2 separate regions of the Homo sapiens genome follow, and region 2 is linked to region 1. A link means that fine-mapping ties the variant in region 1 to the expression of a gene that starts in the linked region. Tissue or cell type: whole blood. Region 1 holds a variant in brackets; the other region holds the start of a gene. All regions are shown on one strand. Distances are from middle to middle.

The links. PIP is the estimated chance that this variant, and not a neighbour inherited with it, causes the effect.
Region 2: it holds the start of TSPAN17, and the variant in region 1 is fine-mapped to the expression of TSPAN17 in whole blood (TOPMed, PIP above 0.99).

Annotation. Positions count from the first base shown.
Region 1 is chr5:176,584,659-176,592,735 of GRCh38, reverse strand. It overlaps CDHR2 (cadherin related family member 2), which reads right to left. Exons shown (of 32, transcript NM_017675.6): 19 at 7,721-8,077; 20 at 6,711-6,782; 21 at 5,894-5,943; 22 at 3,554-3,705; 23 at 3,298-3,406; 24 at 3,120-3,208; 25 at 2,590-2,658; 26 at 2,406-2,483; 27 at 2,251-2,311; 28 at 2,049-2,173; 29 at 1,413-1,526; 30 at 1,252-1,332; 31 at 1-13. Among named protein-coding and RNA genes, the nearest start is that of GPRIN1, 21 kb to the left of the region's middle. The variant A/C (reference allele first, on the strand shown) is at 4,288.
Region 2 is chr5:176,643,580-176,651,651 of GRCh38, reverse strand. TSPAN17 (tetraspanin 17) reads right to left here and starts at 4,168. Exons shown (of 9, transcript NM_130465.5): 1 at 3,950-4,168; 2 at 1-36. The coding sequence starts at 4,036. EIF4E1B (eukaryotic translation initiation factor 4E family member 1B) reads right to left here. Exons shown (of 9, transcript NM_001099408.2): 5 at 7,918-8,013; 6 at 7,213-7,276; 7 at 6,409-6,522; 8 at 6,136-6,275; 9 at 5,008-5,786. The coding sequence ends at 5,672. RefSeq lists enhancers at 123-1,921, 2,039-2,908, 5,270-5,564, 5,835-6,345, 6,927-7,566 and 1 more and a silencer at 3,937-4,596.

The DNA.
Region 1 (8,077 bases):
CAGGGAGTTGACGCTGTAAGAGAGGTGATGGAGCTCAGGTGTTGGCAGGCCCAGTCCTCCCTTACTGTGCCCAAGAACCACCACCTCCATCACCACCATCACCATCACCACGACTACCACCATCATCACCATCACCACCACCACCATCATCACAACTACCATCATCACTACCATCAGCACCATCACCATCACCTCAACACCAACACCACCACCACCACTATCATCATAATCACTATCACCACCACCATCACCATCACCTCAACACCAACACCACCACCACCACCGTCATCATCCATCATCACCACCATCACCATCACCTCAACACCAACACCACCACCACCATCATCATCATAACCATCACCACCACCATCACCATCACTACCATCACCATCACCACCATCACCTCAACACCAACACCACCACCACCACCATCACCATCACCACCATCACCATCACCACCATCATCACCTCAACACCAACACCACCACCACCATCATCATTGTCATCATCACCATCATCACCACCATCACCATCAGCACCATCATCACCTCAACACCAACACCACCACCACCATCATCATTGTCATCATCACCATCATCACCACCATCACCATCACTACCATCACCATCACCACCACCATCACCACCACCACCACGATAACTGCCACCACTACCATGACCACCATGACCACCACCATCACCATTGCCACCACCATCACCCACCACCACTACCATCACCACCATCACCTCAACACCAACACCACCACCACCACCACCGTCATCATCACCATCATCACCACCATCACCATCACAACCATCACCATCACCTCAACACCAACACCATCATCACCACCATCACCATCACAACCATCACCATCACCTCAACACCAACACCATCATCACCACCATCACCATCACAACCATCACCATCACCTCAACACCAACACCACCACCACCACCACCATCGTCATCATCACCATCATCACCACCATCACCATCACAACCATCACCATCACCTCAACACCAACACCATCATCACCACCATCATTGTTGTCATCATCACCACTGTCACCATTGCTACCATCACCATCACCTCACTACCATCACCACCACCACCATAACTACCACTACTACCATGACCACACCATCACCATTGTCATCACCATCATCACCACCAACACCATCACCACCACCACCGTCACTACCTGTACCACCACCACCACCTAGCCTGGCTGTGAGGGGCACTGCTCACCTGACAGAGTCCAGGTCATTGGAGGGAGAGAGGTACTCCAAGCCCAGGTCTTTGTTGGGGAGGTTCAGCATGGGGTTGGCTCTGGAGAGAAAGCCTGGTCAAGTTGCCTGGCCCTCAGCCACCCCACCAGGCCTCTTACCTACCCTTTGACCCCTGCTCACCGCTCAGTGTTGTACATGTTAGTCCCTGGGATGGCAGGGGCTGAGGGCATCACCCCTGCTGCTGTCTTCCTGGCCTCCTTGGCAGCCTTCATAGCTTGAAGCTTCCGGTTGTAGCTGTGGGGAACCGGAAGAGGGGTCACACTGTTGCTGCACACCTGTTGTGTCCCCAGTGGAGGCCCTGAGCCTGTGGCTTCACAAGATCCCGGGAGGTGAGTGTTAGCTCTATTTTACAGAGGGTAGAAGTAAGAGCCAGAGAAGGCAAGTGATTTGCCAAAGGTCAAATAGCCAGTGACAAGGCTTGAAGTCAAGCCCAGATACGGCTGCTGACTCTATACATGTTGGAAAAAGCAGCAGCATCTATTAAACGCATAGTGTGTGCCAGACGTCTAGCTGGGTGTGAGATGCATGTTACTTCCTTGAGTGCACTGAGGAATCAAGTCTCATGCCCTTTCACAGATAAGGAAACTGAGGCCCGTGGAGGGGAGGTGACTCACCCAAGATCTCGCACTGGGTCACTGGGGAGTGAATGCATGTATACCTGTGCCTAAGCCCCAGCTCCTTCTACCCCTACCCCCCGACGTCTTGGGTGGTGGGAGAGGGTGAAGGTTGGAGACACGGGGGCAATGGGAGCCGCACCTCTTCCGCACACACACGAAGGCCATGGTCATGATCACAAGGACCAGCAGCAAAGCCACTCCCAATCCTATGATGACACTGATGAGCTGTTTCGACAGGTCTGACTCCTGGCTCTCCTGGGAGCCCTGGAGAAAGATGAGTGTGAGGGAAGCACACTCGTCTTCAGCAGCCCCACCTGCTGCCCCGCCCTGCCCGCACTCACCAGCACCACCAGCCCCAGCTGCAGCAGCTGCGTCAGCGAGTCCTGATCATTCCGGATCATCCTGGCCACAGAACTCCACTTAGGCCCGAGGGACCTTGGCACACCCCAGGCTTCCTGCTCACCCTCACACCTGCCCCAAGGGCAGCCCCACTCACACACTCAGCTCATCAAGGGTCAGGGCTGACCCATTGGGGAAGACAAAGTAGGCATCGAGGTAGGAGTGAGGTCGGGCCCTGGAGCGGGACAGAGTTGAAGAGTCAGGAGCCTGGATCACCCAGCAGGCCCCTCCTGCTACCGCTTCTCCCCCTCAACCCCACCCCCAGGCCTCTGGGCACTCACCGAGCTGCAGAATCTATGTCCTGAATGTCCACAATGTATACTGTAGTCCTGGTTGCCTGGGTAAGAGCCCTGCAAAGAAGGCAGATGTCACAGAGGCCTGGGGTCTTAGCCTGGGCCTGTGGCCAGGGCTGTGCCAGTGGGATTAAGAATTGTATGAGTGAGAAAGGGCACCTCCTCTGGACAGCTCTGTTGGCTGAGTAGGTAGCATCTCTGTGAAAATTACAAAAGGAAATCCCTTCCTCTGGGGCTGGGTGAATAGCTTAGCAAGCAGAGTGCCCTTGTGCAACACACAGCCTTCACAACTGTACACGGCAGCCTTGTTCCAAGGCTTCCCTCTGCCCTTGGCTGGGTATGGGCTTCTGGGGACATGCAAGAACGTCGTGCAGGTGAAAGTACAGGGTTGAAGACAGGGACAAGGTCAAATGTGGGTCAGGAACAGGATTGAGAGACATCCCATCCAGGTTTTGTCGGGGACCAGGCTCCTACACCCTGTTCTTCCTACCCCTCCCTCCGGGGCTCCCCAGACCTACGCATTAATCGCCTGTCTGTTGGCGCCCACCTCCTCCTTCGGTGTGGAGAACTGCAGCCGCGAGCGGTAACTCTGGTCCACGGTGAAGAGCTGGGAAGGGGGTGTGCAGGAGATGAGGCACCAGGGACCCTGGGGGCTGGCAGAGGGCGTTGGGGGCTGGAGGTGGGACCAGCACTCACATTCAGGGTGGTGGTGGCTTCCAGGAAAGGACCCAAGGAAGGTCTGTCCCTGGCCTGGACTGTCACTTGGTAGGTGCCTTGGAGAGTGGAGTCGAGGCTGGTCACCGGCCTGCGGAAGGCGGGAGGCGCAGGTCAGTCTTGGAACCCAAGCTGAATCCTCAGGACCCTTGTAACCTCCAGGATGGGGGACTTGCTGCCTGAAAGCTCCTATCGGGCCCCTCCCCGCAACCTCCCTCCCGGGGCCGCCCGCAGTTACTGAATGCTCCCAGCGAACACGTCGGCCTCGGAGGAGGTGAAGATCGAGAAGACACCCTGGAAAGGGATGGTGGCCCCGTCCTTAGAGATGAAGTCTACTCGGAGGATGGAGAACAGGATGACGCCATTGTTCCCTGAATCATCGTCTCTGGCCTGGGAGCAAGAGTGGACAATATCTGGGGGCCCAGCCAGGCCAGGCATCCCTCCACCCCAGCAGGGATCAGAGGCAAGGGTGGCCTGGGAGGCTGGCCCTCACCGTCTCTATCCGCCATCCCCACGCTGCCCCGAATAAGCAAATGGTTTCAAAAAACAGTGTGTCTGCTCTGCAAATCCAGATTTGGACAAGAACCTGCCCCTGTTCCCCAACTCCAAACAGATCACTGCCCTAAGTCCCTCACATGTGGAAATCCTGCCCTGCTCCCCCTACACCCCTCCACTGCCATACTCTCTCTCTCTCTCACACACACACACTCACACACACAGTCTCTCTCACATACACACCCTCTCACACACACACACTCTCACACACTGTCCCACTCACACTCAGTCTCACCCTAACACACACTTACACACATATGCACACACACTCATACACACCCTCACACACACTCTCACACACTGTCCCACTCACACATACACTCACTCACCCTAACACACTCACACACATGCACACACTCATACACACCCTCACACACTTATCCTCTCACACTCACATACACTCACACACCCTCTCAC[A/C]CTCACACACTTATCCTGACACACACACTCACACCCTCACTCTCTCATGCACTCACCACACACTCAATTCACACACACTCACACAAATACACTCAATTCACACACATTCACACACTTGCACAGTCACACACATACACACCCACAATCACCTACATACCCACACACTGTCACACACATTCACATACACTCACTCACCCTTATACACACCCTCAGGCACACACATTCACACTTAGACACACACACACTGGCGTGCACACACACAGCGATGCTCAGATTTCCTAAGCACCTCCCCTGGGATCCCTCATTTCCGTGCGGGGAGTACCAATTCCCCTAGTAGACCATGAAGCTGGTTGGGGAGGGGACACAAGCATTTTTATTCATTCTAGTGCCTTTTAGAGAAAAATTTAACCAGCACACAGAGCTTCGAGTTCACCAACGTTACTGTTAAGGATAGGCCAACACCAGTGCTTAGGTCTTAAAAAGGAATCTATTTAAAGAAAATTGCCGTGGCTAAACTCTTGACATTAGAACCAAATTGGCAGAAGATTGGGAAGCTGTCTTAAGACTTGAAAGTCACACAGTCACTGTCTCTAGCATGAACGTCAACCTAGAGAGGGAGAATTACTATCCCCATTTTACAAGAGGAAGCTGAGGCTCCGAGAGACCCTGTCCTTACACTCGGCTCTAAGTGGGGAAGGCCAGCCCTGTCCATCTCTTGTACCCATGTCCTTTCCAAAGCATAGGGAATGGCACCCACATGCCACCTTCTGGGAACTGCTAGCTTCTTGTTGAACAGGGAAACGGAGTCCCAGAGAGGGTAGGCAGCTCTCCAGGTCAGTAAGAAGCCCAGCCAGGCCCAGCCCTCGGTGGTGTGGGAAGCCTCATCCCCACACGGCATGGCCACCACCCCTAATAAACTTGCCACATCCAACACCATAAACAGCTGAAAGCCTTTTTATGACTTGGCTCCAATAATTTATTTATTTATTTATTTTTTTTTGAGGCAGAGTTTCACTCTTGTCGCCCAGGCTGGAGTGCAATGGCGTGATCTCGACTCACCGCAACCTCCGCCTCTCGAGTTCAAGTGACTCTCCTGCCTCAGCCTCCCAAGTAGCTGGGATTACAGGCATGCACCACCACACCCAGCTAATTTTGTATTTTTTAGTAGAGATGGGGTTTCTGCATGTTGGTCAGGCTGGTCGCAGACTCCCGACCTCAGGTGATCCACCTGCCTTGGCCTCCCAAAGTGCTGGGATTACAGGCTTGAGCCACCGTGCCCAGCTGGCTCTGAGAATTATTTAATGACAAGGCACTGGCTTAATTTACAATTAGCTATGAGTTCTCTGTATTACTCAAGAATTCTGGTATAGTAAGAAATATCTGGACTGCAAGTGGTATTTACGGTCATGACATTTTTATGAATGCTACATTTATCACAGTGAAGTTTGATTACATTGATTAGACAGGTGTTGGTTTCCCTTCTGGGGTTTTCTTTTTCATGTGTTGGAGCCCATATATTTTCTTTCTACCATGGAAGGCCTGAAGGCCTCAGCCCTGTGTCCCCTGGGGCTCATATGACCAACAAAGGCTGGAGCCAAGAACTTACCCGGACAGAAGCCACCTCCCGGTTGGGCAGCACGAGTTCAGGGATGATCACTGCAGGTGTGAACGGGAACGGGGTCAGCGGGGTCGGGACACTGCCCACCTGGACCAAGGCTGGTCACGAGCCCAGCTCAGGGCTCATCCCCCTAAACCTGCCCTCAACCTCTCTACCAAAAGAGACCCCTATTACAGCCACCACTGGGCCAGTAGTTAGCAAGTCATCCACCTCCCATTGTCACAGGTGAGGTCACAGGCCCACAGGACCATGCGGAAATGGAGGCCCAGAGAGGGAAGTCCTGGCCCAGGGCCAGACATTAGGTCGGACAGAGCTGGAATGAAAACTCCAGTGTTGGCTGGGCATGGTGGCTCATGCCTATAATCCCAGCACTTTGGGAGGCCAAGGCGAGCAGATCACTTGAGGCCAGGAGTTCAAGACCAGTCTGGCCAACACAATGAAACCCTGTCTCTACTAAAAATACAAAAATTAGCCAGGTGTGGTGGCGCATGCCTGTAGCCCCAGCTACTCTGGAGGCTAAGGCATGAGAATTGCTTGAACCTGGGAGGCGGAGGTTGCAGTGAGCTGAGATCGTACCATTGCGCTCCAGCCTGGGCGACAGAGCAAGACTCCGTCTCAAGAAAAAAAGGAAAGAAAAAAGAAAACTCCAATGTCCTCTCCTATTGCAGCCCTAGGAAGATGCAGGATTAGAGGCCTTCCCCCCTTTCTAAAGGCTCCCCCTGGGGTCCAAGGAGGGTCTGTCGGGGTTGCTCAAAGGCGGCCTTATGGAGCAGGGGTATGGTGTGTGAATGGGGTTGCTGCTTACCAAAAGTCTTATTCTCAGGCAGAAAATAGGGTGCATTGTCATTCACGTCCTCAATGGTAATGAGGAGGCTTCCTAGGAGACAAGGTCAGCTGGCTTTGGCTCTGGGCAAAAGCTTGACCCAAAGAGCCTGGGCCTCAACCCTGTGCCCCACAGCCTCAACCCCATGCCCCGCAGCCTCAACCCCGTGCCCCGCAGCCTCAACCCTGTGCCCCGCAGCCTCAACCCCGTGCCCCGCAGCCTCAACCCCATGCCCCGCAGCTTCTCTCCCATGTGTTCCCCCATGCTCAGTCCCCTTCCCTGCTCCTGACCCAGAATGCCTGATCGGTCTTCTCTGGCCTGTGTGGGTGGGAGTATCATCCCAGACCTCAGAGCAGATAAGCAGCTTGTCAAAGTCACACAGCAATAGTGGTGGGCCAGGATTGGGCCCAGCCTAGGTAGATCTCACCTATGACATTATACTGACACATTCTAACTATATAAGCTGGTTGTTTAAATACCCACTTTCTGCCTCAGTTTCCTCATCTATAAAATTGGATAGGGAACACCTACCCCATGGGTTGTGTGGAAGTGGAAAAATTCTTACAAGGTGCCTGGTGTAGTTCTTGGCTGTCATAAGGACTCAATATATGCTAGTTGTTAATGTGATTATTATTGCTATTTGGTGTCAGAAGTGGGATACAAGCACACATCTAGCTCTGCAGTGTTATCTTTCTTTCACAGCATCTTGTAAAATAATGGCATTAATTTGATGCTACTGCATGCCAGGCACTGCAATAAATGCCATACATCCATATTCTCATTGAATCTTCACAGCCCACCCCACTGCCCAACTCCACTGGACAGATGGGGAAACTGAAGCTTGGAGAGGGTTTGGGACTTTCCCAGTATTTGCAGCTGGAAAGGGCTGGAGCCAAGATCTGAGCCCAGACCTTGTGAGTTCCAGCCCAGGGCTCCTTCCCGCGGCCCCTAAGCTATGGCCTGCCAAGCCCTGCAAGGACAGGCTGCCTTACCATTGTTGCTGTAGGCCTGGAAGCCGGGGTCCGTGGCTAGGTCACAGGCCCGCACAACCAGCGTGACCAGGTCACAGGCCTCGTAGTCGATGGCTTTGCTCTGGTTGATGTACACAGAGCCGTTGGCCGCCACTGAGAACCAGCCCCAGCATAGGCTGCCCACATCGACCCCGGCCTTGGTGCAGAGAATGTTCACAAGCTGTATCTCCAGCTGGGCACTGGTGTCCACATCCGAGGCAACCACCACAGCCACCTGGCCGTGCTGTGAGCCATTCTCAGCCACACGGATGCCCCGGAGTGAGGCTACATCCAGGGTGGGGGGATTGTCGTTCACGTCTTTCACATTCACGCAGACGT
Region 2 (8,072 bases), 59 kb before region 1:
CCAGAGGCCGATAGCCAGGAACAGGGCTCCCAGCACCTGCAAGGGCAGCAACAAAGAGCTCAGGGCTGGGAGCAGCCCCAGGACCCTCCCCCCTCATCCTTCCCCGGTAGCCAGGGCCTTTCCAGCGGAGAGAGGAAGAGGCACAAGGGCTGTGAACGGGATCCGGGGTCCTTTCCATCTTCCCAAGAACACATCCCAGTGCTTCTTCCCCACAGGACACAGCCTGGAGGACTGAACCCTCTGCTAGCCTTGGGATGGACATCAGGGGCCCCTTCCTGGAACTCCAAATTGGAGCAGACGGTGGCCAAGACACTCCTGCCAAGGAGCAATAGCAGCTGTGTCAGCGGGGGTAGCGACGGCGCCAGTATACTGAGCCTCTACACCTGACCGAAGCTGGTGCTGGGGTTCCAGGCTCCTAGCCTCCTTTCTGCACCCTGCCAAGTCCAGCTCTCCTGCTACCCTAAAGCCGTGTGACTGCGGCCCCGCCCTCAACACTCCTCCCCAGCCCAGCCCCATCCTACCCCTTTAACCTCCGCCTGCCAGAGTCAGCTTCCACGGCTCACGACCAGACACCCCTGAATGACAGGAATCTCAATCATCCCTAGCAGGATCCACCTAGGATCTGGCCTGTGCCAGTGGCTTTGCCCCATGGCCACAGCTCTGCCTGGGCCTTCAGAACACCAGCTAGACTCCCCACCGGGGCAGTCCAAGTGCCTCTCCTCCATCCTCAGCTTTCCCACCTTCCTGCCTCAATTCCCTACTGGGAAGAGCCCTGGATGTCCAGGCTGGTCACTCTCACACCTGACCCTGGGCAGGTCCCTGGGCGTGCAGTCTCAGAGGGGGAAAGGCTGTCGTACCCAAGCCCAGGGCCATGACCCCACCTCCTGCGACCTCCCCACCCACCTGCTTTATCTGCAGGCTCCTTCCCCTCAGCACATAGCCACGGCCAAGGCCTTTATCACCTTCCCTTCCCTGACCGTGGGCTCCCCACACTGCTCTATTCTTTCTCTGGAAACATCTTCCCTTCCCTCCTGCCTGCTGGGTCTGCTGATGTGAAACCAAACATCACTTCTCCTGCCTCCTCCCACTTGGCCTGCCCTTGGCCTTCAGACAGGGGACTGAGTGCCACTTTCTCCTTCCTGAACCCCACCTCAGTTAACTCAACCCCATTCCTCCCCGAGCTCCTTCCCAGGATGCTCCGCCTTCACCTGCCCCGGGGATTGGTCCAGAGGCAGCCAATCAGAGCCAAGGAAATACAATTAAAGCACTTTGGGAAAACAGCTGGGAAGTGAGCTCTCAGCCTCCAGCAGGAGTTCCTGGAGGGCTGTGTTCCTGGAGGGACCACCTGTGGCTGGTCCCACGGCCTCCAGCCTCAGCCTTCTGCCGTTCTTCCTCCTCACGCTCGTCTTCCATCCCATCATGACGCTGGCATCTCCCGATCCCCACCCAGACCTCATGCTGGTCCCACACCCCTACGTCCACCCGCCTGCAGCAAACACCTCCACGACCCACCGGCACTGATCGCCGCCATGCCGGGGATTCGCTGGTGAATAGGACGGACTCGACCCTCACGGAGCTTACACTCCAGCAGGGGAGATGGACAGTCAGTGAGCAGACAAGGAAACCTCAGATGCAAACAGACCCCTTAACAAATATCGAGCGGGGCGACGAGATGGGGGATGCTGGGGTTGGACGCCAGCTTTAGAGAGGGCAGAAGGGAGGGTGGGGGCATTTCAGCTGAGGTTTGAATGATGAAAAGAGCAAGAGGGAAAAGCCTGTTCCAGGAGGAGGGTAGGGCACAGGCAGAGGCCCTGACACAAGACCACGTCTAGTTCAAGGAACAAACTGAAGGGCGGACAGCCCGGCCCCGCGGGGCCCTGGAGGCCGACAGTACTCTAGGAGCAGTAAGAAACCACGAGCAGGATGGCCGGGCGTGGTGGCTCACGCCTGTAATCCCAGCACTTTGGGAGGCCAAGGCAGGTGGATCACCTGAGGTCAGGAGTTCGAGACCAGCCTGACCAACATGAAGAAACCCCATCTCTAGTAAAAATACAAAATTAGCCAGGCGTGGTGGCACACACCTATAGTCCCAGCTACTTGGGAGGCTGAGGCAGGAGAATCGCTTGAACCTGGGAGACGGAGGTTGCAGTGAACCGAGATCGTGCCATTGCACTCCAGCCTGGGCAACAAGAGCAAAACTCTGTCTCAAAAAAAAAAAAGAAAAAAGAAAAAAGGAAACCACAAGCAGTTTCCAAACAGAACAACACCAGGGTCTGCCTGACATTAAACATGAAAACCTCTGTGCCTGTTCCACAAGCAGCCTCCCTTAGGCCACCTTAACCCAAATCTGAAATCCTCCCTCCAGCCCCCAAGTGACCCAGCCCAGTCAATTCAGCCTCTTGACTTTCCCAGCAACCTCCCTCACCTTTCCCACCTCACCATCCCAGCTTTGCCCCAGCCCTGCCCCCATTCCAAACCTCCAGGCCCTGCCCCTCATCCACCCTCCACACAGCAGCCAGGCAAGCGGTCTCCAGAACAGAAGCCAGATCAGACCCATCACTGGAAGCCCTCGCTTCTCCATGCCACCTTAACATAACACCCCACGCTCCGCCCCAGCAACAAACCCGGGTCTCTCACGCCTGCTCCCCCTCGGTATTTGAGGTTACTTCTGCTCACAGCTCTGCCTCACCTCCACCCTCTGCCCACTAAGCCGTCACCTTGGCTCTGTACTTTCTGGCTGTGTGACCCTAGGTAAGTGACTTAATTTCTCTGTGTCTATTCCTTCAGTTTCCCCATCTGTAAAATGCAGATAATAAGGCAGTTGTGAGAATACAACAAATTGAACTCATTGTATCTGCCTAACAGCCCTCACAGGCAGATTCTTTATCGTCGTCTCCCAGGCAGGCAAGCTGAGGCCCGGAGAGGAGAGATGACTTGCCCAAGGTGTCCCAGCCAGGCCTGCTACAGCCAGGCCTTCTGACTTCTTTGCCAGTGCTCCCACACACTGCCCACACCCTCAAGAGCCTAGCGCTGCAGTGCAAGGACACCCACCACACCAGTGAGCTCGGTGACACGTGGGTGGGGGGCAGTGCCACTGAGTCTTGCTGAACACAAGGGAAAAGGCCTGGCATCTTGACCCAAGGCCTCAGGAGCAGAGACTGCAGAGGGCCACGGCTTTGGAGAGATGGGAAAAATGACCTGGCAGGGCCCAGGGGGACAGATGCCACCCTGGGAGGGGCACTAGTAGCTCCCTTCCCCGGTAGGGGCAGACCCGCCCAGGAGCCTCAGCTTGTCAGCTGTGGAATGTTGAATTCTGTTCCCCAAGGCCAGCTCCCAGGCTCTCAACCGGGGAGATCCTCTCCCAGCCGCCAAGGACTCGCCATTGTCCCTCCCTGCCCCTCCTGGCAGGTCAGCCTCCTTGTGCGGGACTGGGGTGGGCAGAGGACTGTGACCCACCCCACTCTGCAGGAGCCTAAGGTGAGGCACCTGACCCAGGTACTACTGGAAGGGAAAGGAGGCCGGGGAAGGGGCCTGGCGGCTCCCTTCACGCCAGAATCTCCTTACCGGCTAAACCAGGGGTGGGGCTTGGCACGCATCCCACATCCCAGGGTAGGAAGGAGGGCTGGGCGAGAGGGGGCAACCTGCACCTAGCACGCCCCTGGGGTCTTCAAGGAAACACCTTCCCTTTCTCCACCAGGCCTCGGGATTATTTAGGGAGACTCCCTACCCCAACCCCGACCCCACGCTGTCGCTAGGACCCGCCCCCAGCAATCCGGGCCTCTGTAGCTACCTCGGGTGGTCCTGGAAGTGGGCGTGGGTGTGGCAGAAGTGGGGGGATGGTCCCGAGCTCCAAACTCTTGGGGCAGGGAGTGGTCTCCCCCAGCAAAAGACTGAATCTCCCTCTCCCACCACCCCCCAGCACAGGGCAAGGCGCAGACCCCGCGCTCACCCAGAAGACAATGTTGAAGCCAAACAGGAAGTATTTCCCGCAGCAGCCGACCTCAGGTTCCTGGAAATGCTGGTGCTTGCCGGGCATGGTGAGCGGCCACCCGCCGGCCCGGAAACCGGAGCCGGGAGCCAGGCCCAGCGCCCCGCGGGCCGCCCTGGGCTAGAGCCGCCCGGGGCCTAGCCGGGCGGCTGCGGCTTCATGGCCTCGGCCACACAGAGCGCCGGTCGGGCCCCGCCCGCCCCTCAGGGACCGCCCTCAGCATCCAGACCTCCTTGCCCGGAGCCCTGCTGTCCCCGCCTCTGGACCGGGCCCCGCCCCCACAGCCCTCAGTCCCTTTGGAGTCCCGCCTCCTGACCTGGCTCCGCCCCCATAGATCAACTCAGTCCCGCCTGAGCCCCGCCTCTGGACCTGGCTCCGCTTCCCGAGCTCCGCCCCCACAGCCTGATTCGGACCTCCTCGCAGCCCCGCCTTCGGCCAGGCCCCGCCCCCGCGCAGGCCGCCGCCGCGTTTCCCAGCGTCCTGCAGACCCGCCCGGGACGCCGGCTGATGGCGCCGGAGGCCGCCGGGGTGTAGAAGCCTTGCTTCCCCTGCTGGGTACCAGCGCCATCCCAATCCCCAGCCTGCTGTTGGAGCCCATCCCAGGGGAAGGTTAACTGCTGCTCTGGCAGGCGAATGGGGAAGCTGGTCCGGATTGAGTTTTTAACACGTGCAGGACGTTTTGTCATTGTGGAGTCGCATCAGGCTCACCTTCACCCAGCGGAAATCCAGCTCTACTTATCCTGACTCAAACTCAGGCCAAACGAGGGCCTGGGCCTTGGTGCCACGCCGGCTGCGCCCTGCCAGGGGCATATGCCCCCCGGAACCTGGCTCAAGCCCCCTTGGTGGCTGAGTTTCCCCAGCCACACCCCCTGTCCTCCATACTGGCCAGGGTCCCGGTCAGGCTCCTTGGTACCCAGTGATCTCACATGAGCCCCTGTAAGACAGGACAGAGGCAGATCAAAGTTTGGGGGAACCTGAATCTTACTCCAGTTTGAAGCCCTCTTAAAAATAATTCCAACTTTGTTCAGAAGTATTTATTTAAAACAGGAACAGAAAGATGCTTAAGCTTTTATTATCAAGTTTATCCACTTCCACCACTTCTACCAGAACCTTGGTGAGGCCTAGCCCAGCATCCCTCCACCTCCACTTCAGTCTGGCCCTGAGGCAGGCAAGGCCCAGACAGCCCTGGTCACAGCTGGGGAGAAGGGGAGCGGCCTTGCAAGGCTCTCTCAGTCCTCAGCAACCCACGTATCCCTCTGTACAAATGATGGCGTTCACCCTCCAGAATGTCTGTGCCCTTGAGCCCACCACCCATGGAAGAGTCTGTCTCTCAGGCCACCTCACCTCCTTCCTGGGTGGAAACAGTAAACGCTGGACTATGGGTTTCTCCGCCTACCATAGAGCCCTCCTTCCCCGCCATGACTCACCCCACCCTCAGGAGTTTTTTCCACCCTGCTGCTGTCCTGTGGCCCCAGGACAAGCTAGGTCCTCAGACTGCCACCACTACCCCCATCTAGCCCCTAAGGCTCAGGCCCCAACTCATGTTAAAGAGTGTTTGCATTCCTGTTCACTTGAGGACAGGTAAGAACTAGGCTGTCTGATCCCCAGTCCCGCCCCATCCCCCAAAGTAATGAGGCTCAGTGGCGGCTGTCCCATTACATAGGAGGGGTGCCAAGGCCCCCCTCACACCACAAACTTGTTCTTGGCTAGGGAGTTGCTCTTGGTGGCTGTGTCTGCATGGGCCTGGTACCCAATGATGGTCTTTGGGGAGAGGCCCAGGCGCTCTTTGTATACACGCCTGCAGGTGCGGGGGACACAGAGGAAAAGAGACACAGGTAGTCATCAGAGGGTCCTAGAGATAACTTAGGCCACCAGACTCCTACCCTCATTCTGGCCACAGCCACACCTGTTGTGTCTTACCCATGTGGAAACCCAAAATATGACCCCCTTAATGCAAAAGGAGAGCTGCACTGCCGTAAGAGAAAGTTAGAAATCTGAACGCCAGACCTTCCATACAGGTGGGCAAGGCAGAAGGGAGGGAGGCTATGGAGACTTTCAGAGGTCTCCCATGCAGGCCAAGCCCCCTCCACCCACCTTCCCTCTAGCAGAGACCCAAGTCCCCACCCTGTGCCAGAGACCCTCCTCACCCAACGTGCAGCACGCCCGCCTGGTTTTCCGCCTCCCTCGTCCACACAGCGATCTTGTCCCCCTTGGTGCGGATGTTGACGACGGCCCCACATACCTCTCTGCTGTGTTCCTCAAAGCTCTCCCCGATCAGACACAGCAGCTGGACCCGAAGTAGGGGGTTGTGAGATCACCGGCTGGGACATAGGGACTGGCCTGCCATCCTTGAGACCACTGCCACCATGAGACCCACACAGCCCGTCTCTTCCCCTGAGGACCCTCCTCCTCCAACTCACCGTCTCCAGCCACAGCCGGTCCAGCTCAATGTGGCGCTGCTGCTTGGCCAGGCTGACCAGCCAGCGGCCACCCCGTTTATTCCTGCTGTCCTCCCACATGGGCTGGATGCCATCCTGCAAGGCAGATGGCAAGTCAACTGCCTCCCTGTGTTCAAAGGGAAATGGGGACCCACCCACCATCCCGGCCTTATCCGCTCTCTGCTGAGGCCCTAAGTAGGCCAGATTCTCTTATCCTCCCTTCCCTCAGTGCAAGCAGGTTCCACCCCCAGCCACTCAGCTCCCCCCGACAGACAGCACTGGTCACCTTGTATAGCCTTGTATATGTGCATGTCTCTTTTACTGAGTTCCTTAAGACAAGCATTCAAATCGGGGTGGATTAAGGAAGCCTCAGGGGCAGACCCCAATGCAGGCAAGGGGGACATCCCAGGCTTGGCTGCATGGTTCCCAGGCAGGGCAGAAGTCACTGGGGAGATCTCTAAACACAATGTCAGCCCTCCAGGGATGGGTGTGGCATCAATGAGTGTCCTCAAGCAATTCTGATGCCCTTCCCTAGTTAAGGAGCCAGGTCAGAAATCTCTCCCTCTCCCTCTTCCCGCCTCTTAAGGTCCTCCAAGGTGCGGCTTGGGCCTGACCTACTCTGTCCGGGCTCCTGTAGAGCATTTCCTCCAGTCAGAAACCACAACTCTGCTGAGAGGTGGCCCGTAGCTCCCCACCCCCACCCCTCTGAGGGATTAACGCAGTGGAGTCCGGGAGGGATCAACCCCTTGTCCCTTTGCGGGAGGGAAAGAGGAGAGCAGAGCTTACCTTGAAGAGGGCGTAGTCACAGCCAGAGGAGAGCTTGCTGGCCAGCTGGATGTGACTGTATAGCCTGGACAGAGCCCCCGACCCCATGCCAAAAGTCAAGGCTTTTTAGGGCCTGGTTCCAACTGGGTTCAGCCCTCCCAACTCCTCATCCGACCCCATGGCCTCCAAGCCTTTGCTTACACTGGCCTGCCACCTGGGATTCCACTCCCGTTTATCCAAACTCTCAAGACCCACCTTTTCCACAGAGCCTTCCCAGTGAAGGCTGAGCCAACCCCTGGGGAGGGTTTTAGACCCCCTGGTGCTCCCCCCTCCAGCTACAGCCGAGGCCTTCTCACCCTCCCTAGGGCTTGTGTAGCCCTTTTCAGAGCCACTCCCGTGAGCACCCGGACACTGAGGCAGCCGAGTCCTCCCTTTGCAGCTGAGACAGGTTCAGAGAGGGGAAGGAACTTGCCCAGGTCACAAAGCCCTGGAGTGGCCGAGTCAAGGTCAGCTTCCTGCTTCTCCTGCTCCCCAGGCTCTCTCCCTGAGCCCAAAGAAGGTGGTGGGGTGGGGGGTGGTTGTGCCCTATACCCCCTGGGCAGAACCCACAAAGCCCCAGCCCTCACAAAGGCTGAAAGGCCCTAGGGAGGGCTGGCTCAACCCGGAGAGAGGGAGCCCAGAGCTCAGAGCCCCCCAACTCTAGCCCCACTGGGGACAGACACTCACGCCCAGAAGTCCTCCACAGTGTCCACCTTGGTGACCAGGTGCAGGTTGTCCTGCCAGGCCCGGCTGCGGTCATTCTTGAAGAACCACAGAGCCCACCTGGTAGGGGAAGGGGGAGGCAGCCAGGAGGAAGCAGAGAGCCAAGTCCACCCCCGGGG